Regions from separate parts of the Homo sapiens genome. Here all the other regions are linked to region 2. The links come from fine-mapping of genetic effects on gene expression. A gene starts in region 2. Each other region holds a variant in brackets. All regions are shown on one strand. Distances are from middle to middle. Region 1 holds the start of LOC102724273 (a long non-coding RNA gene). Region 2 holds the start of MBOAT7 (membrane bound acylglycerophosphatidylinositol O-acyltransferase MBOAT7). Region 3 overlaps TARM1 (T cell-interacting, activating receptor on myeloid cells 1).

Evidence for each region. PIP is the estimated chance that this variant, and not a neighbour inherited with it, causes the effect.
Region 1: its variant is fine-mapped to the expression of MBOAT7 in whole blood (TOPMed, PIP 0.96).
Region 3: its variant is fine-mapped to the expression of MBOAT7 in whole blood (TOPMed, PIP 0.98).

Annotation. Positions count from the first base shown.
Region 1 is chr19:54,149,955-54,159,261 of GRCh38, reverse strand. CNOT3 (CCR4-NOT transcription complex subunit 3) reads right to left here. Exons shown (of 18, transcript NM_014516.4): 14 at 6,937-7,036; 15 at 6,636-6,834; 16 at 6,263-6,395; 17 at 5,422-5,547; 18 at 3,581-3,953. The coding sequence ends at 3,855. LENG1 (leukocyte receptor cluster member 1) reads left to right here. Exons shown (of 4, transcript NM_024316.3): 2 at 801-980; 3 at 2,237-2,499; 4 at 3,322-4,101. The coding sequence ends at 3,541. LOC102724273 (a long non-coding RNA gene) reads left to right here and starts at 7,035. Exons shown (of 4, transcript XR_001754001.3): 1 at 7,035-7,548; 2 at 8,584-9,305. RefSeq lists an enhancer at 1-208. The variant C/G (reference allele first, on the strand shown) is at 4,998.
Region 2 is chr19:54,185,639-54,195,221 of GRCh38, reverse strand. MBOAT7 (membrane bound acylglycerophosphatidylinositol O-acyltransferase MBOAT7) reads left to right here and starts at 5,642. Exons shown (of 8, transcript NM_024298.5): 1 at 5,642-5,884; 2 at 6,711-6,789; 3 at 6,876-7,005; 4 at 7,935-8,061. The coding sequence starts at 6,714. It overlaps TSEN34 (tRNA splicing endonuclease subunit 34), which reads right to left and starts at 3,914. Exons shown (of 4, transcript NM_001077446.4): 1 at 3,615-3,914; 2 at 3,258-3,501; 3 at 2,849-3,106; 4 at 690-2,047. The coding sequence starts at 3,857. The coding sequence ends at 1,860. RefSeq lists enhancers at 2,462-2,978, 4,947-5,628, 5,629-6,314 and a silencer at 3,823-4,024.
Region 3 is chr19:54,069,713-54,079,311 of GRCh38, reverse strand. TARM1 (T cell-interacting, activating receptor on myeloid cells 1) reads left to right here. Exons shown (of 5, transcript NM_001135686.3): 2 at 3,394-3,429; 3 at 4,198-4,488; 4 at 5,096-5,392; 5 at 9,152-9,417. The coding sequence ends at 9,309. Among named protein-coding and RNA genes, the nearest start is that of TARM1, 6.9 kb to the left of the region's middle. The variant A/G (reference allele first, on the strand shown) is at 4,959.

The sequences.
Region 1 (9,307 bases), 36 kb after region 2:
GGAAATTCGGATCACTTTTTAGTTTGCCTGCACAGCCTATTTATTGAGCATCTACTGTATGCTAACTACATGCCGTGCACCTGACTTGCGGAATCCCCAATAAGCACTGTTCGTTCTTAGAGGGGCACTGTCATCTCTGTTGCACGAAGTGAGATGGCTTCAGTGAGGGGAAGGCACATTTTAAGGAGAGGCGGACAGCCAGGCTCCACGCCATCGGGCGAGCCCTTTCGTGCACCGCCCCCTAGACACATACACACAAACACGGGCTTTCCGTATGGCTCTTTAAATCTGTTTGGTGTACACCCAACTTTCATTTCCTTAGCTAGTCTGATCCTCCGCCGTGGGTGGGAGGTAGTCTAGGTTTTTAGAATCTCAGTAGGCTGCTGAGCGCTGTTTGAAATCCGCGTCCTGAAGGCAGGGGACAGGGCTTCAGCAGACTTGGGGTAGTCACTTGGAGCCATGGCTAGAATTCAGATCGTCTGGCCTAATGCATACCTTTATGGCTGTTTTAATTGTCTCACTTGAGGTTAGGAACCCCTTTGGTTTAGGCCAGGGACCTCCTCCCATACATCCTTGATGACCCGTGGTTTACTATTTGAAAGGGAGTTTACAAAACCCAGGCGTTGCCTCATCTGCCTACCCTCACCCCCAGCTAGGACAGGTGCCTCTTTTAGGCGCCTAGTGCTCCCTTTCTCATAACCCCAGCACCCTGGACTGCCATTTTCTGTGGTGGGCACCAGACTCACAGTTCTTGAATTACCTCTAGGTTCTGAATGTCCTGCCTATAACTTTCTCCCCAGGCCCGTACAGAATTCCTACGGAAGAAAGCCAGACATCAGAACTCACTGCCTGAGCTTGAAGCAGCAGAGGCGGGAGCCCCAGGTTCTGGCCCTGTGGACCTGTTTCGGGAGCTGCTGGAGGAAGGGAAAGGAGTGATCAGAGGCAATAAAGAGTACAAGGAAGAAAAGCGACAGGAGAAAGTAAGCTGGCCTCACCCACTTCATCAGAGGGGCCATGAATCGAGTTGGAGGGAGGGGGCACTTTAGCCATTGGTTGTGACCAAGGTCAAACAAGAGTGAACACACAGAATTTAGGACCATACCAAGGCATGACACTCAAAAAGCGTTGGCTATTGCCGTCTGGGCGCCCACAGGGGTTGGAGGTAGATGCTAGAGGTCCCCAGCTGCTGGGCAAACCGCTCAGTTCTCCAAACTGGAGGAGTCTCAAACCTGATGGGCTTTTAAAAATTTAAATCAGCCGGCTGTGGCTCACGCCTGTAATCCCACCACCTTGGGAGGCTGAGGCGGGTGGATCACCTGAGGTCAGGAGTTCAAGACCAGCCTGGTCAACATGGTATCTCTAAAAATACAAAAAAAATTAGCCGGGCATGGTGGTGCGCGCCTGTAATCCCAGGGAGGCTGAAGCAGGAGAATCGCTTGACCCAGGAGGTGGAAGCTGCAGTAAGCCGAGATTGCGCCACTGCACTCCAGCCTGGGTGACAGAGCGAGACCCCATCTCAAAACAATCAAACAAAAAGTGAATCAATCGCCTCTTGCTTTTTGGCTAAGATCAAGTGTAAAAGGTACATCAGTGGCTGTGCATGGTGGCTCACGCCTGTAATCCCAGCACTTTGGGAGGCCAACGTGGGTGGATCACCTGAGGTCAGAAGTTCAAGACCAGCCTGGCCAAACATGGCAAAACCCCGTCTCTACTAAAAATACAAAAATTAGCTGGGCATGGTGGTGTGTGCCTGTAATCCCAGCTACTCGGGGGGCTGAGGTAGGAGGATTGCTTGAACCTGGGAAGCAGAGGTTGCAGTGAGCCGAGATCGTGCCACTGCACTCGAGTCTGGGCAACAGAGCGAGACTCCATCTCAAAAAAAAGAGGTACATCAGCTCTTGTCATTTATCTGCTGTCTCTGGACTTGCTGACCCCACCCATCGCTCCTCTGCTTTGCTTGATCCCTTCAGGCTTCTCTTCAAGTCTCTCTGCAAAGATGCCTGCCTCTGAACACTCAAGTGGCTCCACTTGTCCCCTCCTTCCCCTGCTGTTACTGTACCTGCTACTGTCCCCCCAGGGGGAGCTTTGCCTCTGTTTGTCTTCCATCCCCAGCACCTGGTCCAACTGGTTCATAACAAGCCTTAGATACCTGTTCGCTTAGATACCTGTGTCAGGGAGACACACCTGACACCTTGAAAGATTATATCACATCTCTTGTATTTCCTGGCCCCCTCAGGAGAGGCAAGAGAAAGCTCTGGGCATCCTGACATACCTGGGCCAGAGTGCAGCGGAGGCACAGACTCAACCCCCTTGGTACCAGCTACCCCCAGGGCGAGGGGGCCCCCCGCCCGGCCCAGCCCCAGATGAGAAGATCAAGAGCCGTCTGGACCCTCTGCGGGAGATGCAGAAGCATCTGGGGAAGAAGAGACAGCACGGCGGTGATGAAGGCAGTCGCAGCAGAAAGGAAAAGGAGGGGTCTGAGAAGCAGCGACCCAAGGAGTAAGAAGACCCCACCTCGGCAGACCAGGGCCCAGACCTTCAGGGCTTGGCAGCAGCCCAGCATGGGCACTGCAGCGTCTCTGGTCAGGACAGCCAGGGACTCCGTGAAGGGCTGGCTAGGTGGAGAAGTGGTTCTCAGCATGTGGTCCAGGGAGCCCTAGGGGTCCTGACACCCTTTCCCGGGGTGCTGTGGTGTCAAGCCTATTTTCCTGACACTGGTGGACTTTTCCACTCGTGTTCTCAGGCATGTAGTGCAGGTTTCCAGAGGCTGTGTGATGGGGAGACACCCTCACTCTGATGGCCAATGGCAGATGCTTGTGTCCAAACTTTCTTAGTTTTCACTAATGATTTGCAGCATATTAAGAGAACCCATTTAAACAAAAGCTCTTGGGGTCCTTGGTTTTTAAGAGTATAAAGGGGTCCTGAGACCAAAGAGTTTGAGAGCTGCTGGGTTAGAGAGTAAAAGCAGGCTTCTGTCTCCAGGATGCTGCACCCCTGGTCTAGAGGGGGTACACTGCCTGTAGTCTTCTTTCCTCTAGAAAGGGAAACTGAGGGCCAGGGGGCTGCTAAGTGTGCTTTCTTGACCTGGAGAAGCATCAGATTTTAAAGACTGGGGAGGACCAAAGCCCACAGAAGGGAAGGCCAGAGACGTGCCCATGGCGTCCCAGCACCAAGTGGCTGCTTCCAGCAGGCCTAAGGAGCTGAGGCTGGGGTGTGCTGGATGCAGCGGGGCTTCCAGGCGGCAGCTCCCTCTATGGGAGAGGTTGGGGGAATGGCCTCCTAGGGGCTACCAGCTTTCTGACCTCACTCCTCTCCCCACAGGCCTCCATCCCTGGACCAGCTTCGAGCTGAACGTCTGCGGAGGGAAGCAGCTGAGAGGTCTCGGGCAGAGGCCCTGCTGGCCCGGGTCCAAGGCCGGGCACTACAGGAGGGTCAGCCGGAAGAAGACGAGACGGATGACCGGCGGCGGCGGTACAACTCCCAATTCAACCCCCAGCTGGCCCGGCGCCCCCGCCAGCAGGACCCTCACCTTACTCACTGACTCCTGAGGGGGTACAGGAGAGGCCGCTGCTGCCAGCCGTCATATAAAACTATTTATTCATAAATATTTTCCAAAATGAAAATAGGTTTACCAAAAAATGTCCCTCACTGGGGAGGGGAGGAGGGGGCAGCCCTCGCCCCCGGGCCCCCAGGGTGGGGCTGAGAGGAAAACCTCCCGGCCCCCTCCCTGCTTCCTGGGAGAGGGGGATGCCCCGTGGCTTGGGGCCTCCCTCCAGTCTTCCAGGGCAGGGCCCTCACCTGGGCAGGGGGATCAGCATGCGGGGGAAGGGGGTGGGTAGAGGGAGGGGCCGGTGTCACTGGAGGTCCCGGTCCTCCAGGTAGCGGTACTCAAAGGTGAAGCCTTCCTTCTTCCGCTGGCCCCACTTCTCGTAGTCAAAGTAGATGTAGGTGCCCTGGCCGGGGGAGAAGGCGGTCAGTGAGTGGACGAGGAGGTGGTCTGGGATCTGGGCCGGACCAACAGACAAAGGGGACAATTCTTAGGGCTGTGGATGTGTCAGGCACCGGGCCAGCTGCCCTGCACGCACACACTCTCATCCATCCTCACAAGGTTCTTCTTGGGTAGGAAATGTTATCATGCCACTTCAGCGAGGAGGAAACGGAGGGGGCCGCAGAGGTTCCACCGAAGCCAGCTGCCAGAACGGGGCCCCAGCCCCAGGTGTGAGTGCACAGCCTTCGTTTCCTCGAGGGCTGTGGCTTTTGAGCACCTCTCACGTGAGTACAGGATGCACAGCCTAGCATTTAATCTTCACAAAGACCTCGAGGCAGTGGGTACTGTCACCCTTGTTCTAGAGAATGGAACAGTCTCAGAGTCTAAATCCAAGCACTCTGCAGGGACATTTTATTGGTGACGAAGTGGTGTGGGAATTTCTGAATGACTGGATGCCCTGAAATGTACTAACTTGGAGGATGGTTTTGGGCCAAACCAGGAAAGGACAGGAAGTCTGTGGTTAACATCTGAGGACACAATGGGAGAGGACCTAGGTTCTAAATGAATGTCTTAAGTGCTTCAAAGATGGCAACCTGGGAGAACCAGGAGAGGGGACTGAGTTCTCTGAGGACAAGGACCTTGTACTACTTCATCCCCATGAAGGGGCTCGGCATCAGGGAAGTATTTGGTGGAAAAAAACATCACTGTAGAACACACCAACTGAAAGTAATTTGAAAAAAAAAATCCATGACACTGACTATGTAGCAGTCACCATTAAGTACTTACATGTTATTAACTCATTTAATCTTCATAACAACTGCATTAGGTAGGTGGTCTTCCCCCCATTTTTACAGATAAGTTAATTGAGACACAGAGGTTCGAGTGACTTGCCTAGAGTCGCCCAGCTGGACTGGGCTGAAACCCAGGTAGGTTGGTTCCAGAGTGTTTGCAAGCAGCAGGAATTTCCCAGTATTAGAACTTGAGAAGCCCATTCAAAAAAAATAGTTTC[C/G]GCACTGAGCCCCTGCCCTGCTGAGTGCTGGGACCTGGAGGTGAAGTGGGGGCCATCAAGGTCCCTCGGCAGCAGAGCCCACAGCCTGGTGCAGGGACACATACTGGGAAAATCCCACACCCCAGGCGAGTGTGCCCAGCACTGCAAAGGGGAGGCACTGGGCTGGGTGGCTCCAGGAAGGTTTCTTTGAGGAAGGGACATTTGGGCTGAGACCTACAGGAGGCCTAGGAGCTGGCCAAGTGGAGGATGAGAGGGCGGTGTTCCAGGCTGAGCAGACAGCCAGAGGGAGGAGTACTTGGTCAGGCTGAGGGACTGCGCCAGCTGAAAGGTGGAGGCAAGGGAGCAGAGGCCAGCAGGGGCTGCCTGGAGCCTGGGGACTCTACCCCAACCCTAGCAGCGGGAAGAGAGGGGGCGGGGCCCTCACCTGCTCAAACTCGTCAGTGATGGTCTTGGGCTCCTCGTGCCTCTGGAACCACATCATGTACTTGGTGTGGAATCGCCATGACTGCTTCTTTAGGGCCTTGGCTGCCAGATACTGTGCCTTAGTGCCCTGGGGGAGGAACAGTGGAGAGGGGGATCAGGGGGCCCCCAAACTGGGTGGGGAGCCAGGGGAATGGGGCAGGACATCAGGGCTGAACCCCGGCCCCCGCCACAGACCACAGTTGGGCTGGACAATCCTCTTGGAGATGGGGCTGGGGGCACAGAACATACCAATGCTGATCAGGAGAAGGAAAATGAGACAGGAGGTGAAAATTGCTTTCAGAGAAGCTTTGAGAAGGAAGAAAAACTAATGTGTGATGAGAGCTGAGAGAGGAGGCAATTTAGAAAATTTCCCAAGTGGGGATGAGGGTGGAGGTCACTCATGACTCACTGGGGTTGGGAGGGGGCTGGACAGCTCCCCAGTGGTCTCCAGGGAGGCCTGAGAATGTGCCAATGAGCAGAGTGGGGTCGGCCTAGACTGGGGCTGCTGGAGCAGGGCTGGGGAGGGGCCGCGGGTGAGCCAGTGGGCAACTGGAAGCGGGGCTGAGGTGTGCCTCAGTGGACCAGCCTCGCTGTCAACCCAAGCAGTTCTAACATCTCTGGGCTGGAAGGCGGGGACGGGGACAGGTGGATTTGGGGCAGGGGCCCAGGAGTGGGAATAGGGAGGGGGTGCGGTCCCAGTGGCCGCAGTGGGGCACCCACCTCACCCCTCCAGCCCGAGGGGGGACGGCGGCGGTGGCGGCGAAGCCGGGGGGCCCGAGGCTGCCCCGGGGGCCCTGCTGTACCTCCAGATAGTAGAAGATGAAGAAGAGTGTCTCGGTCGACAGGCGCTGGTAGAATTCCACAGTGTCCGAGTGTGGGGGTGGCATCTGGTGGTGGTAGGGGGGCGTCGGACAGGGGTTCCGGGGGAGGTACTGCCTGTGAGAGCAACAGGAAGGTCAGTGCCAGCTGCCTACTAGTCCTGTCGTGATCAAAAGGGTGCTCAGACATGCATCCCTGCGGGGGGAGGTGGTACAGAAAGACCCAGGGCGGTGCTGACCTTCAGTGGAGAGCCCAAGTCAGGGGCCTGGTGCTCTACCCACAGCCTCACAGGTTCAGCCACTGCCTCCTCCGTAAGACTCAAGTCCCAGACCATCCCCCTTCCCTGTGGCCCCTCACCGAATACGCTCAGAGTCAGAGGGGTGAGGCATGTGGTGCCAGGCGGCCTCTTCCATGGCCTGCTGATAGAGCTGCTCCTTGGTGAGGGGCACAGGGCCCAGTGGACAGACACCCAGCGACAGCGGTATGTTCACCTCTGACAGCTGCAGGGGCGGCTGGGCTGAGGCCGGAGGTGCTGATGTACTGCTCAGGATGATGTCTGTGGGGAGGGTGGGGGTCCGGCCCCCTCAGTGGTGAGGATGGGTCAGGGGCAGCCCCTCCTCTTTGGCCCGCTGCTTCCCCACCATCCTGGGTCCCTCACCTCGCTCGGTCAGGTGCAGCGTTGGCACAGGGTCCTCAATGCCAGAGCTGATGGCTGCCCGTTCCGCCATGGACTTCAAGGAGCTCAGAGGCTCAGGGGCCTGGGGAGGAAACAAGAGGCCTGGCCTGAGCACTTGGGCTGCAGGAGCAAGTGCAGCCTGACACAGGCCCCAGATGCTCTCACCTGCCCTGTTTGGGGGCCGTGGAGGGCCAACGACCCACTCCCCACAATCTACCCATGACAGGTAAAAGCATCAAACTGTAGGGAAACAATCGGAGACCACGACGCATTCATCAGCAGAGGAACGTCTCGTGAGTGGGACTCTGCAGCATGGAATACTACGCCGAGATTTTCAAAATACAAGTTCGTGACATACTACAGAAGTAAACGCCAACCTGCAGAATATGTACAGTGCGCTACCATTTTTGTCAAAGGATGTGCCAATAGTACACGCTCCTTCACTAGGGACACCTACACGCTGGGAGAGCTCCCGCCTGTCTTGAAGGAGGCAGGAGGTCTACATGCTCAGCTGTCTGCCTGTGACTGGCATGGGGTGACTGGAATCGGGGTGGGCCCAGCCCGGCTAGGCTTCAGTCTCCTTGCTGGAAACAGGTAGGTTGGGTCTCCAGCCCCGCAGCCACAGCCTCGTTTCCTATTACAAAGGTTACAGCAGGCTTCTGTTCCCCAAAGTCAGGGCTGGTTCCTCCCATCTCCTCCAGCCACGTGCAGCTGTCCCAAACCCCAGCCCTGTGCTGGACTCTCCACAACGAGTCAGTCGCCAAGGCTTATCCATCCTGTCTCGCTATATCGCCCAGGCAGGTCTCAAACTCCTGGGCTCAAGCTATCCTCCCGCCTCTGCCTCCCTAAGAGCTGGGATTACAGGTGTGAGCCACCACGCCCAGCTATCCGTCCTGCTTCTAAACCCCACTGGATGGCTCCCTTCCCTGTCGTGCCACCATGTCCCACACAGCCCAGGCCTGTCCTCTCCTGCCCAGACCACCCTCCCTCTATCCTGTCCTCACCAGCCCCAGGGGACCTTTCCAATGAAGTCATGTTGTTCCTTCTCTACTCCAAACCTTGCCATGGTTCCCGACCACCCACCCCAGCGATTCATTTTTGTTGTTGGTGGTGTTAAAAGATATGGACCCCTTCTGAAAATCTCAAAGCTGCTGTTTCCCTTTTTCCAGAAAAATGCACGCACTATAAATATCCTGTCCACCTACTTCTAAAATTTGGGCCGGGCACGGTGGCTCACACCTGTAATCCCAGCACTTTGGGAGGTCAAGGTGGGTGGATCACCTGAGGTTCGGAGTTCAAGACCTGCCTGACCAACATGGCAAAACCCCATCTCTATTAAAAATATAAAAATTAGCCTGGCGTGGTGGCAGGCGCCTGTAATCCCAGCTACTCAGTAGGCTGCGGCAGGAGAATCGCTTGAACCCAGGAGGCGGATGTTGCATTCAGCTGAGATTGCACCACTGCACTCCAGCCTGGGTGACAGAGCAAGACTCTGTCTCAAAAAAGAAAAAAAAAAAAAATTAATGCTTCTGTTGGGCCAGAAACTGTTCCAAGAGCTTTATGAGGATGATTTAGTCTTCCAAATAACCCTACATAGTAGGTATAATCGTGACTATTGCCGTTTCCCAGATGAAGGCACAGAAAGGACAATGCCAAGACTTGGACCTGGACAGCCTGGGCGCGCACACTGCCTCCTGGACAGCCTGGGCGCGCACACTGCCTCCTGGACAGCCTGGGCATACACACTGGTCCCCCCATGGAAGCTGCGCTACAGTATACTGGCTCACAAGCCAAGCCCCAGCTCCTGACCCTCGATGATCAGGACCCCACCGTCCTATCCTGCTACACCCACTATCTCAGCCCTGCAGCTGGTGGCACTGTCTCCTGCAGAGTGGACACCTCTCTCCTCTCTGCTGCATCCTGCCCAGCTTCCTAAGCACACAGGCAGATGCATGCTCCTCCTAAAGCACCTCCTGAAGCCCTTCCTGCAGCTGTTAGCCCCCCTGCCTGGTCCAGGTCTCAGCTTAAACATCACCCCCTCTCAGACCTTCCTGGGCCTGTCTCCCAGGTCAGGTCAGATGCCCCTCGGTGGGCCCACCGCAACCTTCCCTGCAGCTGCCCCAGCAGGGAAGCTTCCTAAAGGGTGGAACCAGGCTGCATTCACCCAACCAGTCTTTCTACTTGTGCAGAAAGTACACCAGTCTATGCCTTGTGAGGACAAACGGGGACAGAAACTGAGGGCCTGCGGGGGGGATGAAGATGGAGACCCAGAGAGAGCAAGCAACAAGTGCAACCAAGAGAAAGGAAAAGAGACCCAGAGAAACAGAGCTTTGGAGGGAACAAGAGAGGAGGT
Region 2 (9,583 bases):
TTTTAGTAGAGATGGGGTTTCACCATATTGGCCAGGCTGATCTCAAACTCATCTGCCCACCTCAGCCTCCCAAAGTGCTGGGATTACAGGTGTGAGCCACCACACCTGGCCCAGTGTCATATTTTAAATTAATCTAAACTTACAGGAAATTGAGATTCTATGAAGTCTGTTTACTGGGAATGGCAAGAAAGAGGGGAGATGGGAGTCTCTCTAAACCTATTCTGGTTCCAGAGGCTGCTCAATTCACACAAAAAAGAGAAAGAATGAAACATGGGGGGAAGAAATGGAAGAACTAGAGGTGGAGACTTTCAGCCCCAGAATTTTACCATGTGGAAGTTTTTGTTTGTTTTTGTTTTTTTGAGACAGTGTCTAGCTCTGTCGCCCAGACTGGAGTGCAGTGGCGTGACCTTGGCTCACTGCAACCTCCACCTCCCAGATTCAAGTGATTCTCCTGCCTCAGCCTCCGGAGTAGCTAGGATTACAGGCGCCCGCCACCACGCCCGGCTAATTTTTGTATTTTTCATAGAGGCGGGCCATGTTGGCCAGGATGCTCTGGAACTCCTGACCTCATGATCCGCCCGCCTTGGTCTCCCAAAGTGCTGGGATTACAAGCATAAGCCACCACGCCCAGACTCACCATGTGAATGTATTACACTGACAAAATAAACGTGACAAAATAAAACTGCACATTGATAAGATAAAGGTGTAATTATTGGAATAGTGGTAGTGTTCTAGTACTTTCTTAAGCAAAAACATGGGTAAATGATTTCATAAGTGCAAATTTTTTACAAATACATGTGTTTTAGCTTTTATAAAAATTGCAGAATATAACACATCCAAAAAAGAGTCTAAAATATAAATATACAGTATCAAAAAAATTCACCACTACCCAGGCCATGAAAAAGCAGAACGCCTTCCAGAGTCCTTCCTTTCTCCCCAGGCTCTGAACTCCTAAAATTACAATACTCATTTCCTTTCATAATATATATATATATACACACACATATATATACATACATGTGTGTATATTTACATATATACACACACACATATATATATTTTTTGAGACAGGTTCTTGCTCTGTCTCCCAGGCTGGAGGGCAGTGGTGCAATCACAGCTCACAGCAGCCTCAACTTCCCAGGCTCAAGGGATCCCTGGCTAATTTTTTTTTAAATTATTTTTTGTAGAGACTGGGTATTACAATGTTGCCAGAGCTGGTCTCAAACTCCTGGGCTCAAGCGATCCCCCTGCCTTGGCCTCCAAAAGTTCTGTGGGATTACAGGTGTGGGTCATCGTGCCCAGCCTATATTTTTATTTATAACGTTTGTATGCATCTGGGAAATTTCATAGAAATCTTTTCAAAAGGAAGTTTAGTGAGGTAGAAAGAGTGCAGATTTAGGAGTCAGAAAAACCAATTTTGAAAGGCCAGGCCTGCTATTTACTAAGTGTGTGACTTTGGGCAAGTCAGTCCCCCTCCTCCAGGCCTTTTTCTCACCTGTACATGCAGATGAGACCATCCACGGGTTCCAGGACTGTCGCAAACATTCAAATCATGAACATTTATATACCAAGTTTATTGAGACCTCCTGAGACTTAAACCCTGTAGAAAACAGATGAATCAAACCCAGGCCCCATTCTCGGGAAGCTCACAGTGTGAAAATAGGTAACTACAAAAACACAGCCAATAAGTGCTTTGAAACAAGGAAGAACATAAAAAAGATGTAGTGTTCGAAAACCTGGAATCAAAAACTAACCGCGGAGAAAGGTAGGAGGATGTTCTAGACTCCCAGAGAAGAGCTGGGGAACATCCAGAAAGGCTCTTGCTGCCGACACAGCCACATCCCCTAGGTCTCTGGAGTTCACTGCAGGCTGGCCCATTGCAGGGAGGTGTAGACCACCTTACCATCAGGCTGCGGAGAACAGAGGAGCAGGGTCTTTCTGACGCTGGTTCCAAGGCGCCCAGCAGCAACCAGGTCTTGGAGTGGGATGGTGTCCTCAGGGGCCCAGCACTGAGCGATATAATGGGCGTGGAAGCGGAGGGGGTCACCTGGGGGAAGGAGAGAGGCACTGAAGCAGTGACCAATGGCAGACGGCTGGACGCCACGGGAACGACCACTGGGAGGAGATCTGAGATCATTTCAGCCATCACTATAGATACTCTAAAACAGATGCTCTTGGACACAACTATTCCACTTCTAGGCTTTTTTTTTTTTTTTGAGACAAAGTCTCGCTCTTGTCCCCCAGGCTGGAGTGCAATGGCACGATCTTGGCTCACTACAACCTCTGCCCCCTGGGTTCACATGATTCTCCTGCTTCAGCCTCCCGAGTAGCTGGAAATACAGGCACCCACCACCACGCCCAGTTAGTTTTAGTATTTTTAGTAGAGATGGGGTTTCACCATGTTGGCCAGACTGGTATCAAACTCCTGACCTCAGGTGATCCACCTGTCTTGGCCTCCCAAAGTGTTGGGATTACAGGCGTGAGCCATTGCGCCCAGCCTGATGTCTAACTACTTCTAAGTGAATCTTCTGGATCACAGTAATCATTTAATAAAAGTCGTTAAACTGCTTGCCCAATGAGTTCGGGAGCTCCCAAATGTTTCCTGTCTGTCTATGAATTTCAGAGGCTAAGAGAAAGTGAGACAAAAAAGAAAAATGCAGCTGGGCCTATAATTCCAGCACTTTGGGGGGCCGAGGTGGAAGGATTGCTTGAGCCCAGGAATAGGGACCAGCCTAAGCAACAAGAGACCCCACCTCTATTAAGACAAAAAAAAAAAAAAAGAAAAACGCAGAATACATTGGGATCGTATGGAAAGGCACAGCAACCAGAGGCCCCAACCCATACTCACCAGGATAGACCAGGAAGTCACCTCCGAACTTGCCAGCCGCACTGAGGAAGAAGCCTCGCTCCCACAGGTCTCTGTAGATACTGTAGCGCAGCTCGTGGGCAGGGCGGCCGGCGTGGGGCCAGTCTTTAGACTGGACACGCCAGTCCAGGGGCCTGGCCTTGACCGGTCGAGGCCTGGCAGTGGCCAGCTGGACAAGGAGAGCAGATCTGGGCAAGGGGGCTACCCCATTTGAGGGTCCTGCTTGGGAAGACGAGGGGCCTGGTGGGGAGTACAGAGAAGAGTTTGGTAAATTCAAGGGGTAAAGTCTTCTCACCCTCAGGGAGACCCAGGCACTGGATTCCCAGCTAAAATTCCTAAAAGATCTCTCCTCTCCTTCCCGTGGTCCCTGGACTCCACCTCCCATGCTCACCAGCTTCCTCCTGCTCTCCCGAAGCCTGGCCATCACTGGTCTCATCCTCTTTGGCAGCCTGGCTCGAGCCGGCCTCCTGGCTTGAGCTGGCCCCTGAAGCCTGTTCTAGTTTCTGCTTCTTAGCAGCCTGGCCCTCCGTAATCTTCTCCAGGAGCTCCTGACGACGGGTCTCCCGGGCCTCAGCTGCCAAGGCGCTCTGCTCCTGGAAGCTCTCCTCTTGCTGGCGCTTGAAGGATGTCAGGGCCTGAGAAGCACACTTCGCTGGAACCTCCAAGCTTATGGTCCCTTCAGAAGCCAGGAAACTTGACTCCCAGGTCCCGCTCCCACCGAACCCGAGTTCGAGCCCCGCCCCCTTACCAGGCTGTGGTGCCGAGAGTCTGGACGCGGGGCGCTGACCAGAGTCACGGCGCCGATCTCGGCCAAGAGCCGCGCCTCTTCGGGCATCAGCAGCAGCGGGAGGCCCAGGCGCGAGTTCTGGCGGGGCCCGCGGGGCAGGGCGCCTACCGTGCGGCCCCCCACACCCAGGCGCTCCCGGAGGGCCTGCACCGCCTCGGCTCCCCACACCAGGGAGCGGCCGTTCGCCACCTCCACCACCAGCATCCTCCTGCGGGAGCCGGGAGGCAAAGCAGTTACCGAAACAGCTGCGCGCCGCGGACCGCTGCAGCGCACCCAAAGCCTCCGGGGTCTCGGCGAAGCCCCGCCCCTAGGCCTCAGGGGGCGGGGCCTCGCTCAGCCGCCGTTCACCACCTGCTGGGCCCGAGCGCCAGGCCCCGCCCCCGGGCGATCCCACCAGGCCTCGCGGCCGCCGGAGACGAGACGCCGGAGACAAGCCCCCGACCCTCTCCCCTCGCCAAGCCCCCAGGGTCCCGCTCTACCCTTGTGACCCTGCGGTCGGCACCCGCTCTGTGCCCGCACTGCCGTACCTACCATTGCGCCTTGGAGCGTGAAAAACAAACCTCCGCAAGCGCGGCGACACGCCCCCTTACAAAGGTCCATTTTGGCACCACCCTCTTGCAAAGTGGGCGTCCCCCTTCGGGTGTTCCCGTCAGCGGTCAGAAGCTCTGGAGGCTAAGGCACCGCCGAGGCCACACCCTCTTCCGGACGCTCGAGCCTTCGCTCCTCCTCTTTCCGAACGACTGTGATTCGGCTTTCGGACCTCCTCGCTCTCAGACTCCCACAGTACAAAACCCTGCCCCCTCCCGAGCACAGGAAGTTCGGCGTTCGGGCGTCCTCGGCTCCACCGAATCCGCAGCCCCGCCCCCTTCTCGAACGCCAGCAATTTGACGTTCGGGTGTTCTCGGCTCGGCCGAATCCGTAGCCCCGCCTCCTCCCGGACGCAATAGGTTCGGCGTTCGGGCGTCATCGGCTCCCGGCAGCCTCGCGGCCTGTGGCCCCGCCCCCTCCGAGCGCCAGCGCACCCCAGTTGGGGAGTTCCCGCCCTACGACCGAACCCCACAGCCGAAAGCCCCGCCCCCTGGACACCCGCCGTCCACTCTCCGCTCGGGCGGGCTCACCCCAATTGGGAGCGCTCAGTCCGCCTCCTTGCCTCCCTTCAGAATGTCCCACTGTCCACCGATAGAACCAGCGAGTCACCTCATAAACAGTAATTCGCAGTCGAGGTGGAGCCACCCACTGCGCACCGCGCCACGCGCTCCTTGCTCCACCCCCTCATGCCGACACCCTCGTCAACTTCGTCATCCCGCCCCATCAGCGCCGCGGGAAGTCAGGTCCCGCCCCTCGCAGGACCGAAGCCCCGCCCTCCTCCCGCGGGGGCCACCTTGGCTCCGCCCCACTGAGCGCACCTCCCTCTGCCGCTTCCTCTCCTCTACTTGGGAACTTGAGGATCGTCATCCTGGCCCGGTCCCGTAGGCGCACGCCGGCCCTCGGGGTTCCGCCCCTTTGAGGGCAAGTCGCTTTCGCCCCGCCCCCTTGTAAATACTCATGGGTGTCTGGCGAACCTGTTGACTCCGCCTATCATCCTAGCGTCACTTGTACCCAACTATCTACGAAGTAAACCGAAGCTTGTGGCCCCACCCACATCCGGCCGAGTCTGTGGCCCCGCCCACATCGGAACAGTGACCCTAAGGACTCGACTACCTCCGAAGAAAGCCGAAACATGTGGCTCCGCCCACAGTGGCCTCAGCTCTCCGTTCTCGACTATTGCCGAAGTGAGCCGAAGTTTGTGGCCCCGCTTCCGGAGAACTCAAGCTCCCGATTGTGCCCGAAGGAACCCGAAGGGAGACCCCGCCTCATTCCTCACGCCGAGCTCCAGACCCCGCCTCCTTTCCAGAGCCCGTCTGTTCCCCTTCGGGTCCAAAGCTTTTGGCTCCTCCTTGTTCCGAGCCCGAAGGCCCGCCCCTTCACGTACTCGGAGCTCGGATCCCAGTGTGGACCTGGACTCGAATCCCGTTGCCGACTCGCGCTCTCGGCTTCTGCTCCGGGGCTTCTTCCCTGCCCGCCCGGGGCCCTGACCGTGGCTTCTTCCCCGGCCTGATCTGCGCAGCCCGGCGGGCGCCCAGAAGGAGCAGGCGGCGCGGGGGCGCGCTGGGCGGGGGAGGCGTGGCCGGAGCTGCGGCGGCAAGCGGGCTGGGACTGCTCGGCCGCCTCCTGCCCGGCGAGCAGCTCAGGTGGGCCAGGGTGGCGGCGCCCAGTGGCGAGGCGAGGTTACACGGCGGCAGGGTCTCTGCGGGCTGGCGGGTGCGGGGCGGCCCCGGAGGCGCGTTGGAACTCGGGGCTGGCGCAACCGCCTGTGGCTCTGCCGGGGATGCGCTGGGGTGCGCGGGACGGGTTGGGGCTGGGCCTGGGCCTGGGCCTGGGGAGGGGAGGGTGTTCGATCCCCGGGTTCTCAGTAGGAGAGGGGTGTGGAGCTCCGAAGGAGGTGCAGGTTGGAGACCCGGGCTCCTCTGGGTGGTCTCGAAGGAGAAGGGCTGGGGGGTCCGGATATCTGGTTTCACAAGGGCCGGGGGATGGGGGATCCAAAGAGGGGGTCTGGGTTCCTGGATCCTCGCTGGAAGAGGGGGCTCGGAGGTCTAGATTCCTGGGCTGTCGAAGAGGAAGGGTCCGGGAGGGGTGCCGTTTCTGGGTTTTTAAAAGAGGGGCGTCTTCAAATCTGGGTCCCCAGTATGGGTGCGGGGAGTAGCTTTGATTTCTGCGTTCGCAAAGGAGGGGCTTGGGTGCTGGGAGATCCCCACACTTTCCTGGGTTCTCCAAGGACAGGAGAGCTGGAGGCCTGTGCGCTCAAAGGAGGGGCTGGGGGTGGATTCCTGTCTCCTCCAAGGAGGAAGGGGCTGGAGTCTGGGTTGCTAGGTTCTCAAAGGAGAGGAGCTGAGGCTCATACTCCATCATCCTCAAAAACTGGGGTCTAGAAGGCTGGGTTCCTGGATCCTCGAAGAGGGAGGAGGCAGGGGGCCTGGATTCCTGGGTTCTCACTGTGAATCTCTGCCCCTCCCCCAGACCATGTCGCCTGAAGAATGGACGTATCTAGTGGTTCTTCTTATCTCCATCCCCATCGGCTTCCTCTTTAAGAAAGCCGGTGAGTCAGGCTCCCTCCCCAGTGGAAAATAAAGGGGGGGGACCCTCTGGAAGGTTCCAGGCTTATGCTGTCCCTTCCCCCTGCAGGTCCTGGGCTGAAGAGATGGGGAGCAGCCGCTGTGGGCCTGGGGCTCACCCTGTTCACCTGTGGCCCCCACACTTTGCATTCTCTGGTCACCATCCTCGGGACCTGGGCCCTCATTCAGGCCCAGCCCTGGTGAGAATTTGGTGGAGGGAGGAGAGGGAGAGGAGGGGAGAGGGGGAAGCAACCTGTTTCCTCTTTGAGTCTTTTTCAGCTTCTGCCTCATGTCTAGCTGTCTCTTGTTGATCAGCTCATTTCTCTGTTTCATGTTTGTTTGTTTGTCTTTCTTTCTTTCTTTCTTTCTTTCTTTCTTTCTTTCTTTCTTTCTTTCTTTCTGAGATGGAGTTTCGCTCCTGTTGCCCAGGCTGCAGTTCAGTGGCACGATCTTGGCTCACTGCAACCTCCACCTCCCGGGTTCAAGCGATTCTCTTGCCTCAGCCTCCCAAGTAGCTGGGATTACAGGCATGCTCCACCATGCCTGGCTAATCTTGAATTTTTAATAGAGCTGGGGTTTCTCCATGTTGGTCAGGCTGATCTCGAACTCCTGACCTTGTGATCTGCCCACCTCAGCCTTCCAAAGTGCTGGGATTACAGGCGTGAGCCACCGCATCCGGCCTTCATCTGCTTTTCTTTCTCCCCTGCCTTCTGCGTCTGGTCCCTGTGTGTTTGTCCCAGTCCGCTACATCCATGTCATGGAGAGAGGTGGACAGTGTGTCTGCTGGCCTGGCCACCGTTCATATTCATTCATATCCACCTCTCTCTTCTTGAGCCCTGGACCTCGGAAATAAAGAAAAAGTGGAGGATTGCAGGGTCTTCACCCGAAGCTTCTCTTAACCTCATTCTCTGTTGGTGTGTGTTTCTATGTGGCTGAGCCTCTTCTCCCACTGTTTCAATCATACTCATTCGGTCCCTACATCCACCCTCCTGTCCTCTCTGCCCTTCTGTGTTTCTGTCTCTAAACGAATGGGGAGAGCTGGGGGAGGATTGGTGGCTGGACTCGTGGAGTGAGTGGCCAAGGCCGAGACTTCTGTGCCCAACACAGTGCGCCTCCTGCTTTTGCCCAGCTCCTGCCACGCCCTGGCTCTGGCCTGGACTTTCTCCTATCTCCTGTTCTTCCGAGCCCTCAGCCTCCTGGGCCTGCCCACTCCCACGCCCTTCACCAATGCCGTCCAGCTGCTGCTGACGCTGAAGGTCAGACTCGGGGCTTGCCACTCCCCTCCAGCCTCCCTGTGGGCCCCTTCACCTCCCACTTTACCTCCCCCTTCAGTGGCTCCCCGGGATTTTACCTCCAACACACCCTGGGGGTGGGACGTCACCTCACTTGCTGCCCTGGGCACAGCATTCCCCATTCACATGCCCTTGGGCAGGTCTTCACCTCCCAGCTCCTCCTGGGGTGAGGAAATAACCCACATAGGGTAACAGTAGGTGCCATTGGGTGCTTGCGGTGTGCCAGAGGCCCAGCTGGGTGGTTTACCAACATGCTGTCCTTGAATCTCTGTAGCCAGCTATTTTGCAAAGGAGAAAAACCAGCTCTGGGGAGAAGGTACTTGGTGAAGGGAACAAAACTAGGGCATCCAGGTCTGGCTCCTAATCACCTGGGAAGAGGGGTAAAAACAGAATCCTAGGGCCCACCCCAGACCCACAGAGTCATGGTTTCCTACTGGCGGCTTATCCGTGAACACAGCAGTCATGCTAGGTAGGGAGTGGCCTTCCCAGCATTCAGTGTGCCCTGTGGGAGCTCAGTGGTGGCAGGAGTAGGTTGGATGAGAGAGGGGTTCGTGGAGGAGCATTTCAGGCCGCAGGATGTGTGGAGGGGAGCAGGCTGGGTTCCACAGGCTACACCAGCCACATCCACTTTCTGGGACGAGCAAAAGGGAACAGGCAGCAGGGCTGACACCGTGCTAGGCCTGGCTGGAGACCGTGAGGACATTGGACTTCTTCCCGTGGAGGATTGAGATCTGCTGGAAGAGGGGATTTTTGGTTTGCTGCCAGAAGAGGCAATGTGACCAGTTTTAAATGTTTAAAAATACTCGTTCTGGCTGGGCACAGTAGCTCACGCCTGTAATGCCAGCACTTTGGGAGGCTGAGGCAGGCGGATCACCTGAGGTCGGGAGTTCAAGACCAGCCTGACCAAAATGGAGAAACCCTGTCTCTACTAAAAATACAAAAGATTAGCTGGGCGTGGTGGCACATACCTGTAATCCCAGCTACTCGGGAGGCTGAGGCAGGAGAATTGCTTGAACCCAGGAGGCGGAGGTTGTGGTGAGCTGAGATCGTACCATTGCACTCCAGCCTGGGCAACAAGAGCAAAACTCCATCTCAAAAATAAATAAACAAATAGAAATACTCATTCTAGGCCAGCTGCGGGTGGCTCACGCCTGTAATCCCAGCACTTTGGGAGGCTGACGCGGGTAGATCACCTGAGGTTAGGAGTTTGAGACCATCCTGGCCAACATGGTAAAACTCCGTCTCTACTAAAAATACAAAAATGAGCCGGGTGTGGTGGCTCACACCTGTAATCCCAGCTACTCAGGAGGCTGAGGCAGGATAATTGCTTGAACCTGGAAGGTGGAGGTTGCAGTGAGCCAAGATCCCGCCATTGCACTCCAGCCTGGGCCTTCCCGGGCAAGATTCCATCTCAAAAAAAAAAGAAAAGAAAAGAAAGAAAACTCGTTCTGGATGCTGAAGGAGAATTGAAGTGGAACAGGGCAAG
Region 3 (9,599 bases), 120 kb after region 2:
AGCCCCTGGTAACCTCCATTCTAATTTCTTTTTTTTTTTTTTTTTTCGGAGATGGAGTCTTGCTTCGTCACCCAGGCTGGAGTACAGTGGCCTAATCTCAGCTCACTGCAACCTCCGCCTCCTGGGTTCAAGCGATTCTCCTGCCTCTCCCTCCCGAGTAGCTGGGATCACTGGCGCTCACCACCATGCCTGGCTAAGTTTTTTTTTTTTTTTTTTTTTAGTAGAGACAAGGTTTCACCATGTTGACCAGGCTGGTCTCGATCTCCTGACTTTGTGATCTGCCTGTCTCGGCCTCCCAAAGTGCTGGGATTACAGGCGTGAGCCACCGTGTCCAGCCCATTCTAATTTTTATCTCTATGAATTTGCTTATTCTAGGATGTATGAGTGGAATCATAACACTTGTTCTTTTTTGCCTGACTTAGTTTACTCAGCATAATATCCTCGAGCTACATCTATATTGTAGGATATGTCAGATTTCCTTTCCTTTTTATGGCTAAAATCCCACTGTAGGCCGAGCACAGTGTCTCACACCTGTAATCCCAGCACTTTGAGAGTCTGAGGCAGGCAGATCGCTTGAGCCCAGGAGTTCGAGACTAGCCTGGGCAACATGGTGAAACCCTGTCTCTACAAAAAATACAAAAATGAGGCTGGGCATGGTGGCTCACGCCTGTAATCCCAGCACTTTTTTTGCAATGACCTGACGTAAGGAGTTCGAGAACAGCCTGGCCAATAGGGTGAAACCCCATTTCTACTAAAAATATAAAAATTAGCCATGCGTGGTGGCGGGCGCCTGTAATCCCAGCTACTTGGGAGGCTGAGGCAAGAGAATCGCTTGAACCCAGGAGTCAGAGGTTGCAGTGAGCCGAGATCATGCCATTGCACTCCAGTCTGGGCAACAAGAGCGAAACTCCATCTCAAAATAAATAAATAAATATTAAAAACAACAACAACAACAAAAATGAGCTGGGCATGGTGGTGTGCAGCTGTAGTCCCAGCTACTCGGGAGGCAGAGGTGGGAGGATCACCTGAGCCCAGGGAGTTGATGCTGGAATGAACTAGGATCACATCATTGCACTCCAGCCTGGGCAGCAGAGCGAGACCCTGCCTCAAAAAAAAAAAAAAAAAAAAAAAAAGAAAGAAAGAAAAGAAAAAGAAAAAAGCATTTTGGAGGCTAAGATGGGCGGATCACCTGAGGTGGGGAGTTCAAGACCAGCCTGACCAACATGGTGAAACCCTGTCTCTACTAAAAAATACAAAATTAGCTGGGCATGGTGGTGCATGCCTGTAATCCCAGCTACTTGGGAGGCTGAGGCAGGAGAATCACTTGAACCCACAAGGCGGAGGTTGCAGTGAGCTGTAATCCCAGCTACTTGGGAGGCTGAGGCAGGAGAATCACTTGAACCTGCAAGGCGGAGGTTGCAGTGAGCTGTAATCCCAGCTACTTGGGAGGCTGAGGCAGGAGAATCACTTGAACCCGCGAGGCGGAGGTTGCAGTGAGCCGAGATCGCGCCATTGCACTCCAGCCTGGGCAACAAGAATGAAACTATGTCTCAAAAAAAAAAAAAAAAAAAACGAAGAAAAAGAAGAAAAATCCCATTGAATATATAGAGCACACTGTGTTTATCCATTCTTCCATGGATGGACACTTACGTTGTTTGAACATTTTGGGTGTTCACAATTTCCTTTTGCAAAACTTGAAGTGTCAGTTTATGGATTGGCTCATGGATGTAATAGTAGCACAAACGCCTGGTAACTTCTCCTTTTTCCTGCTGAGACCTAAAACTGTTCACACAGGGGAAAAAGAGGAAATCTCTCAGAGACACAGGCCTAACTAACTTTCTTTGAGTTAGATCAATCTCATTATTATGATAATGTTCATAAACAGGCTTGATATTATGTTTTTTCTTTTCTTTCTCTTTTTTTTTTCTTTCCTGAAACTGAGTCTCGCGCTGTGGCCAGGCTGGAGTGCAGTGGTGCGATCTCAGCTCATTGCAAACTCTGCCTCCTGGGTTCAAGCGATTCTCTGCCTCAGCCTCCTGAGTAGCTGGGATCACAGGCGCCCATCACCACACCTGGCTAATTTTTGTATTTTTAGTAGAGACGGGGTTTCACCATGTTGGCCAGGCTGGTCTTCAACTCCTGACCTCGTGATCCACCTGCCTCGGCCTCCCAAAGTGCTGGGATTACAGGCGGGAGCCACCGCGCCCGGCATGGTCAAGAGTTCTTAACCAGCCCAGCCCTGTCTCTATCAAAAAAAATTAAAAAGGAGGAAGAGCAAATGCAGCCATGTGTGAAACAGGGAGGAACGTATGCTTTCCCCTTTCTGGAATGACCATTTGGATGTTTTGAGGCTTGTTACAGGACACCAAACAATAAATTTTGTCCTGTTTGGAGTCATGAAGGGATTAAAAGAGATCATGAGCCTGGGCAACATAGGGAGACTCTGTCTCTGGGAAAGACTAAAAAATTAGCCGGGTGTGGTGGTGCACACCTGTGATCCCAGCTACTCGGGAGGCTGAGGTGGGAGGATCACTTGAGCCTGGGAGGCTACAGTGAGCCATGATGGAGCCACTGCACTCCAACCTGGGCAACAGAGAGAGACCCTGTCTCAAAACACAATAATAAAATGAAAAATTAAAAAATAAAAAGAAGCTGGGCACAAAGCTCATGCCTGTAATCCCGGCACTTTGGGAGGCCGAGGTGGGTGGATCACCTGAGGTCAGGAGTTCGAGACCAGCCTGGCCAATATGGTGAAACCCTGTCTCTACTAATAATACAAAACTCAGCCGGGCGTCCTGGCGCATGCCTGTGATCCCAGCTATTTGGGAGGCTGAGGCAGGAGAATCACTTGAACCCGGGAGGCGGAGGTTGCAGTGAGCCGAGATTGCGTCACTCTACTCCAGCCTGGGCGACAGAGCGCAACTCTGTCTCTGGAATGAATGAAAGAAAGAAAGAATGAATGAAAGAAAGAAAGAAAGAAAGAAAAAGAAAGAAAGAGCGAGACTCTGTCTCTGGAATGAATGAAAGAAAGAATGAATGAAAGAAAGAAAAAAGAAAGAAAGAAAGGAAAGAAAAAGAAAGAAAGAAAGAAATGGTAAGAATGAGTGCTGTTTTCAAACAGAAGATGAGAATGGAAGGATTTGTGGGAAAGGCCTGGAGCAGGGGGAGGTGACAGCCACACAGGATGGTCAAGGAGAATCTCTGGGAAAGGATGGAGGAGCTGGAAGTCGAGCAGAAGCCACAGTCCAGTGTGGGGAGAATGAGAACTCCTGAGCGTATGACCTCTAAGGGTCTGTTCTCAGCAGGAGACTCTGGGACGATCTCCAGGGGTCAGGGCAGGGGGTGACGTGGCTCCAGGTAGGGGCTTCTGGCTCACGGAGGATTGTCTTGCAGGACTGTGCGTGGGCCAAGGAGACACAAGGGGAGATGGTGAGTGTTTCTTCAACTACACCCTCCTTGGCCTGTCATCCCAAATCCCCTGCTGTTCTCTTCCCCTTCCCCCTCTTTTTCTCTTTTTTTTTTGACGGAGTCTCACTCTTTCGCCAGGCTGGAGTGCGGTGGTGCAATCTCGGCTTACAGCAACCTCCGCCTCCTGGGCTCAAGTGATTCTCCTGTCTCAGCCTCCCAAGTAGCTGGGACTACGGGTGCTTGCCACCACGCCCAGCTAATTTTTGTATTTTTAGTAGAGACGGAGTTTCACCATGTTGGCCAGGATGGTCTCGATCTCATGACCTCGTGATCTGCCTGCCTTGGCCTCCCAAGGTGCTGGGATTACAGGCGTGAGCCACCGCACCCAGCCCGCTTCCCTTCTTAAAATGGGATTCCTGATTGGGCTCAGGGGTTCACGCCTGTAATCCCAGCACTTTGGGAGGCCAAGGTGGGTGGATCACCTGAGGTCAGGAGTTCGAGACCAGCCTGGCCAACATGGTGAAACCTTGTCTCTACTAAAATACAAAATTAGCTGGGTGTGGTGGTGCGTGCCTGTAATCCCACCTACTTGGGAGGCTGAGGCAGGAGAATTGCTTTAACCCAGGAGACGGAGGTTGCAGTGAACTGAGATTGCACCACTGCACTCTAGCCTGGGCAACAGAGGGAGACTCCATCTCAAAATAATAATAATAATAATAAATTTTAAAAAGGGCTTCCTGAGAGCAGGGGAGGGCATCGGGTCCAGCATCAGGCTCTGCTTCCTTCCAGGGTCACTGCCCAAGCCGTCCCTCAGTGCCTGGCCCAGCTCGGTGGTCCCTGCCAACAGCAATGTGACGCTGCGATGTTGGACTCCTGCCAGAGGTGTGAGCTTTGTTCTCAGGAAGGGAGGAATTATTCTGGAGTCCCCGAAGCCCCTTGATTCTACAGAGGGCGCGGCCGAATTTCACCTCAATAATCTAAAAGTCAGAAATGCTGGAGAGTACACCTGTGAATACTACAGAAAAGCATCCCCCCACATCCTTTCACAGCACAGTGACGTCCTTCTACTGTTGGTGACAGGTACAGACAGGGTGCCTGCCAATGACATACGGGGGACAGGGGATGAGGGAGGAAGTGGAGGAACAGAGGGAGAAAAGGGGTCCCACCTTCAGAGTAGTTGGGGGTGGTGGGAGAGGGAGAGAGACAGGAACGAAATTGCATATGTTGGTTTTATACTTTGTCGCCCAGGCCAGAGTGCAGTGGTGCCATCTCGGCTCACTGCAACTTCCGCCTCCTGGGCTCAAGTGATTCTCCTGCTCCAGCCTCCTGAGCAGCTGGGATTACAGGTGCCTGCCACCATGCCCGGCTAATTTTTGTATTTTTAGTAGAGACAGGGTTTCGCCATGTTGGGCAGGCTGGTCTCGAACTCCTGACCTCAGGTGATCCACCCGCCTTGGCCTCCCAAAGTGCTGGGATTACAGGTGTGAGCCACCATGCCAGGCCTTACACAGGTCTTGTAGGAGGGAGAATCTCTGTCCTGGGGTCGGAGT[A/G]GGAAGTGGAGGAAGGTAGAAGAGATCAGGAATCTCTCATTTCCCACACTCCACGAGAGCCTCCGGCCAGGAGAACAGGGGTGAGTGGGGGATTCCAGACTTCTCCCCAGGACCTCAGAACCTGACTTCTCTTACAGGACATTTATCTAAACCTTTCCTCCGAACCTACCAAAGGGGTACAGTGACCGCAGGTGGAAGGGTGACTCTGCAGTGCCAGAAGCGAGACCAATTGTTTGTGCCTATCATGTTCGCTCTACTGAAGGCAGGGACGCCATCACCCATCCAGCTGCAGAGTCCAGCGGGGAAGGAGATAGACTTCTCTCTGGTGGACGTGACAGCCGGCGATGCTGGGAACTACAGCTGCATGTACTACCAGACAAAGTCTCCCTTCTGGGCCTCAGAACCCAGTGATCAGCTTGAGATATTGGTGACAGGTAAGGGCGTGTATGGTTTTGAGGAACTGTGTGTGTTGTTTTTAATCAGAGATTGTTTTGTTCTTCTGTGAATCTCATTTCTTCATTACTTACAATATCATCGCTCTTAACAAAATCTTCCCTTTCTGGCCTGGCGTGGTGGCTCATGCCTGTCATCCCAGCACTTTGGGAGGCCGAGGTGGATGGATCATCTGAGGTCAAGGATTTGAGACCAGCCTGGCCAACATAGTGAAACCCCGTCTCTACTAAAAATAAAAAATTAGCCAGGTATGATGGCATGCACCTGTAGACCCAGCTACTTGGGAGGCTGAGGCAGGAGAATTGCTTGAACATGGGAGGCGGAGGTTGCAGTGAGCCAAGATCTTGCCACTGCACTCCAGCCTGGGCAATAGAGTGAGACTCTGTCTCAAAAACAAAAAACAAAAAACAAAAACAAAAACAACAAAACAACAAAAAAACCTCCCTTTCACAATTTCCACTCCTTTGCCTTTTTTTTTTTTTTTTTTTTTTTTGAAATGGAGTCTCACTCTGTTGCCAGGATGGAGTGCAATGGCGCGATCTTCGCTCACTGCAACCTCCACCTTCCAGGTTCAAGTGATTCTCCTGCCTCAGCCTCCCAGGTAGCTAGGATTACAGGCCTGCACCACCCATCCGGCTAATTTTTCTATTTTTAGTAGCGATGAAGGTTTCACCGTGTTGACCAGGCTGGTCTTGAACTCCTGACCTCAGGTGATCTGCCTGCCTCGGCCTCCCAAAGTGCTGGGATTACAGGTGTGAGCCACCGTGCCCGGCCCTCCTTTGCCTTTTTGTTATACTACATCCTTGGAAAATTTCTAGGCTGTTTTTGAAAATTATGAATCTACCAGCACCAGATTCCTTCTACCAGTCTTTGCATCTCTTAGCGTTTTGGTTTTTTGTTTTGTTTTGTTTCATTTTGTTTTTGAGACAGAGTCTCGCTCTGTTGCCCAGGGTGGAGTGCAGTGGTGCGATCTCAGCTCACTGCAACCTCTGCCTCCCGAGTTTAAGCAATTCTCCTGCCTCAGCCACTTGAGTAGCTGGGATTACATGTGCCCGCCACCACGCCTGGCTAATTTTTGTATTTTTAGTAGAGATGGGGTTCTGACCATGTTGACCAGGCTGGTCTTGAACCCCTGGCCTCAGGTGATCCGCTCACCTCGGCCTCCCAAAGGGCTGGGATTGCAGGTGTGAACCACTGTGCATGGCGTGTTTTGTTTTTTCTTGGTGTTAGTGATTTCACTCTCAATAATTCTTTCTCAGTCATGTGTGGTGGCTCAGGCCTGTAATCCCAGCACTTTGGGAGGCTGAGGCTGGAGAATTGCTTGAGCCCAGGAGTTTGAGACCAGCCTGGGCAACATAGTGAGACCCAGTTTCAAATTTAAAAAAAAAATTATCTCATCCTCAGAACATGGTGTTTGCACAGCCTCCTGCTTCTATGCCGTGGATGCGAAGTCTACCCATGTCTTTTATTGACTGCTAGAATTCTTCTGAAAGTATCTTGTTTCCTGCCTTACTGGGTGCTAGCACTCTGCTTCCTCAGCTCTGTAAATTATTTTTCATCTGTTGTAACTGCTGTAATGAGTTACATTACAGCTCTTGCCGGGTGCCTGGATGAAGCCCATTCATCAAGACAGAGGAATTGCAAAAAAGAGTTTAATACACATTGAGCCAGGTAAGTGGGAGACCAGAGTTTTTTTGTTTGTTTGTTTGTTTGAGACGGAGTCTTGCTCTGTTGCCCAGGCTGGAGTGCAGTGGCGCGATCTCGGCTCAATGAAACCTCTGCCTCCCAGGTTCAAACGATTCTTCTGCCTCAGCCTCCCGAGTAGCTGGGACTATATGTGTGCCACCCTGCCTGGCTAATTTTTGTATTTTTAGTAGAGATGGGGTTTTACCATATTGGCCAGGCTGGTCTCGAACTCCTGACCTCGTGATCTGCCCGCTTGGGCCTCCCAAAGTGCTGGGATTACAGGCATGAGCCACTGCACCTGGCCAATCAGAGTTTTATTATTACTCAAATCAGCCTCCCTGAAAATCTGGAGGCTAGGGTTTTGTTTGTTTGTTTGTTTTCTTTGAGATGGAGTCTCACTCTGTCGCCCAAGCTGGAGTGTAGTGGCACAATCTGAGCTCACTGCAGCCTCCACCCCCCAACCCCAGGCCCAGGTCAAGTAATTCTCCTGCCTCAGCCTCCTGAGTAGCTGGGATTACAGGCACCCGCCACCACACCCGGCTAATTTTTTTGTATTTTTAGTAGACATGGGGTTTCGCCATGTTGCCCAGGCTGCTCTCGAACTCCTGGCCTCAAGCAATCCTCCCACTTTAGCCTCCCACAGTGCTGGGATTACAGGCGTGAGCTACTGTGCCCGGCCTCAACTCAAACTTTCTCAGGTGCACTGCTGCACAGCAGTGTGTGCTGCGAGGATGCTGATCCAGCCACGGAATTCGGGGCTCTGTAGAGCTCCTTCCGTCTCATGTGCTGCCCCAAGACTATTCCTTAACATAAGGATGCGGGAGGAGAAAAGGCAATGTGGGAAGGTGGAAATGGGATAAAGAGCAAATAAACGAAGGAAGAGAGCTAAGGTGGAGTGAATATCAAGGAAGGAAGATAAAGGAACTCCCATTACAACTCATTAGGATTGCATATCTTGGCCGGGCGCGGTGGCTCAGGCCTGTAATCCCAGCACCTTGGGAGGCCGAGGCAGGCGAATCACTTGAGGCCAGGAGTTCGAAACCAGTTTGGCCAACATGGCGAAAACCCATCTCTATTAAAAATACAAAAATTAGCCGGGTGTGGTGGTAGGTGCCTGTAATCCTAGCTATTCGGGAGGCTGAGGCAGGAGAATCGCTTGAACCCAGGAGGTGGAGGTTGCAGTGAACCGAGACTGCGTCGCTGCACTCCAGCCTGAGCAACAGAGTGAGACGTCGTCTCAAAAACAACAACAAAGATTCCATCTTTTGTTTTCAGGGATTAAAACTTTAAAGAGCTCAATTATGGCCAGGCATGGTGGTTTATGCCTATAATCCCAACACTTTGGGAGGCCAAGGCGGGTGGATCACCTGAGGTCAGGAGTTCGAGACCAGCCTGACCAACATGGAGAAACCCCGTCTCTACTAAAAATACAAAATTAGCCGGGTGTGGTGGCACATGCTCATAATCTCAGCTGCTTGGGAGGCTGAGACAGGAGAATCACTTGAACCCGGGAGGCAGAGGTTGTAGTGAGCTGAGATTGTGCCATTACACTCCAGTCTGGGCAACAAGAGCAAAACTTGATCTCAAGAAAAAAAAAAAGTTCAATTAAAACTTTAAAGTACAGTGGACTACTGGCTAGAAAACATTAAGTGGGTGGCCGGGCGCGGTGGCTCACACCTGTAATCCCAGCACTTTGGGAGGCTGAGGTGGGCGGGTCACCTGAGGTCGGGAGTTCAAGACCAGCCTGGCCAACATGGCGAAACCCCGTCTCTACTAAAAATATAAAATTAGCCGGGCATGGTGGCACATGCCTGTAATCCCAGCTACTTGGGAGGCTGAGGCAGGGAGGCTTGAACCTGGGAGGCAGAGGTTGTGGTGAGCTGAGATTACACCACTGCACTCCAGCCTGGTCAACAAGAGTAAAACTCCGTCTCAAAAAAAAAAACCAAAAAACCGAAAACATTAAGTGGGTGATGATAGTCAGATTTGGTGGGGCCATTTGAGAAGGAGGGATACCCTCTGAGGGTCAGTGCTGAGCCCCTTCTCTCTTTCAGTTCCCCCAGGTACCACATCGAGCAACTACTCCCTGGGTAACTTCGTACGACTGGGTCTGGCTGCCGTAATTGTGGTTATCATGGGAGCTTTCCTGGTGGAGGCCTGGTACAGCCGGAATGTGTCTCCAGGTGAATCAGAGGCCTTCAAACCAGAGTGACTCCATCTTGAACCGGGGCTGGGTAAACTGAGGCTGCAACCTGCTGGACTGCATTCCCAGGGGGTTGAGGCTTTCTAAGTCACAGGATGAGACAGGTCACAACATACAGGTCACAAAGACCCAAAGACACAAAGATGCAACAAAGAAGCCAGCCAAAACCTGCCAAATCCAAGATGGCAACAAAAGTGACTTCTGGTCGTCCTCACTGCACATTATTTGCTAATTATAATGCATTTGCATGCTAAAAGACACTCCCACCGCCACCAAGACAGCTTACAGATGCCATGGCA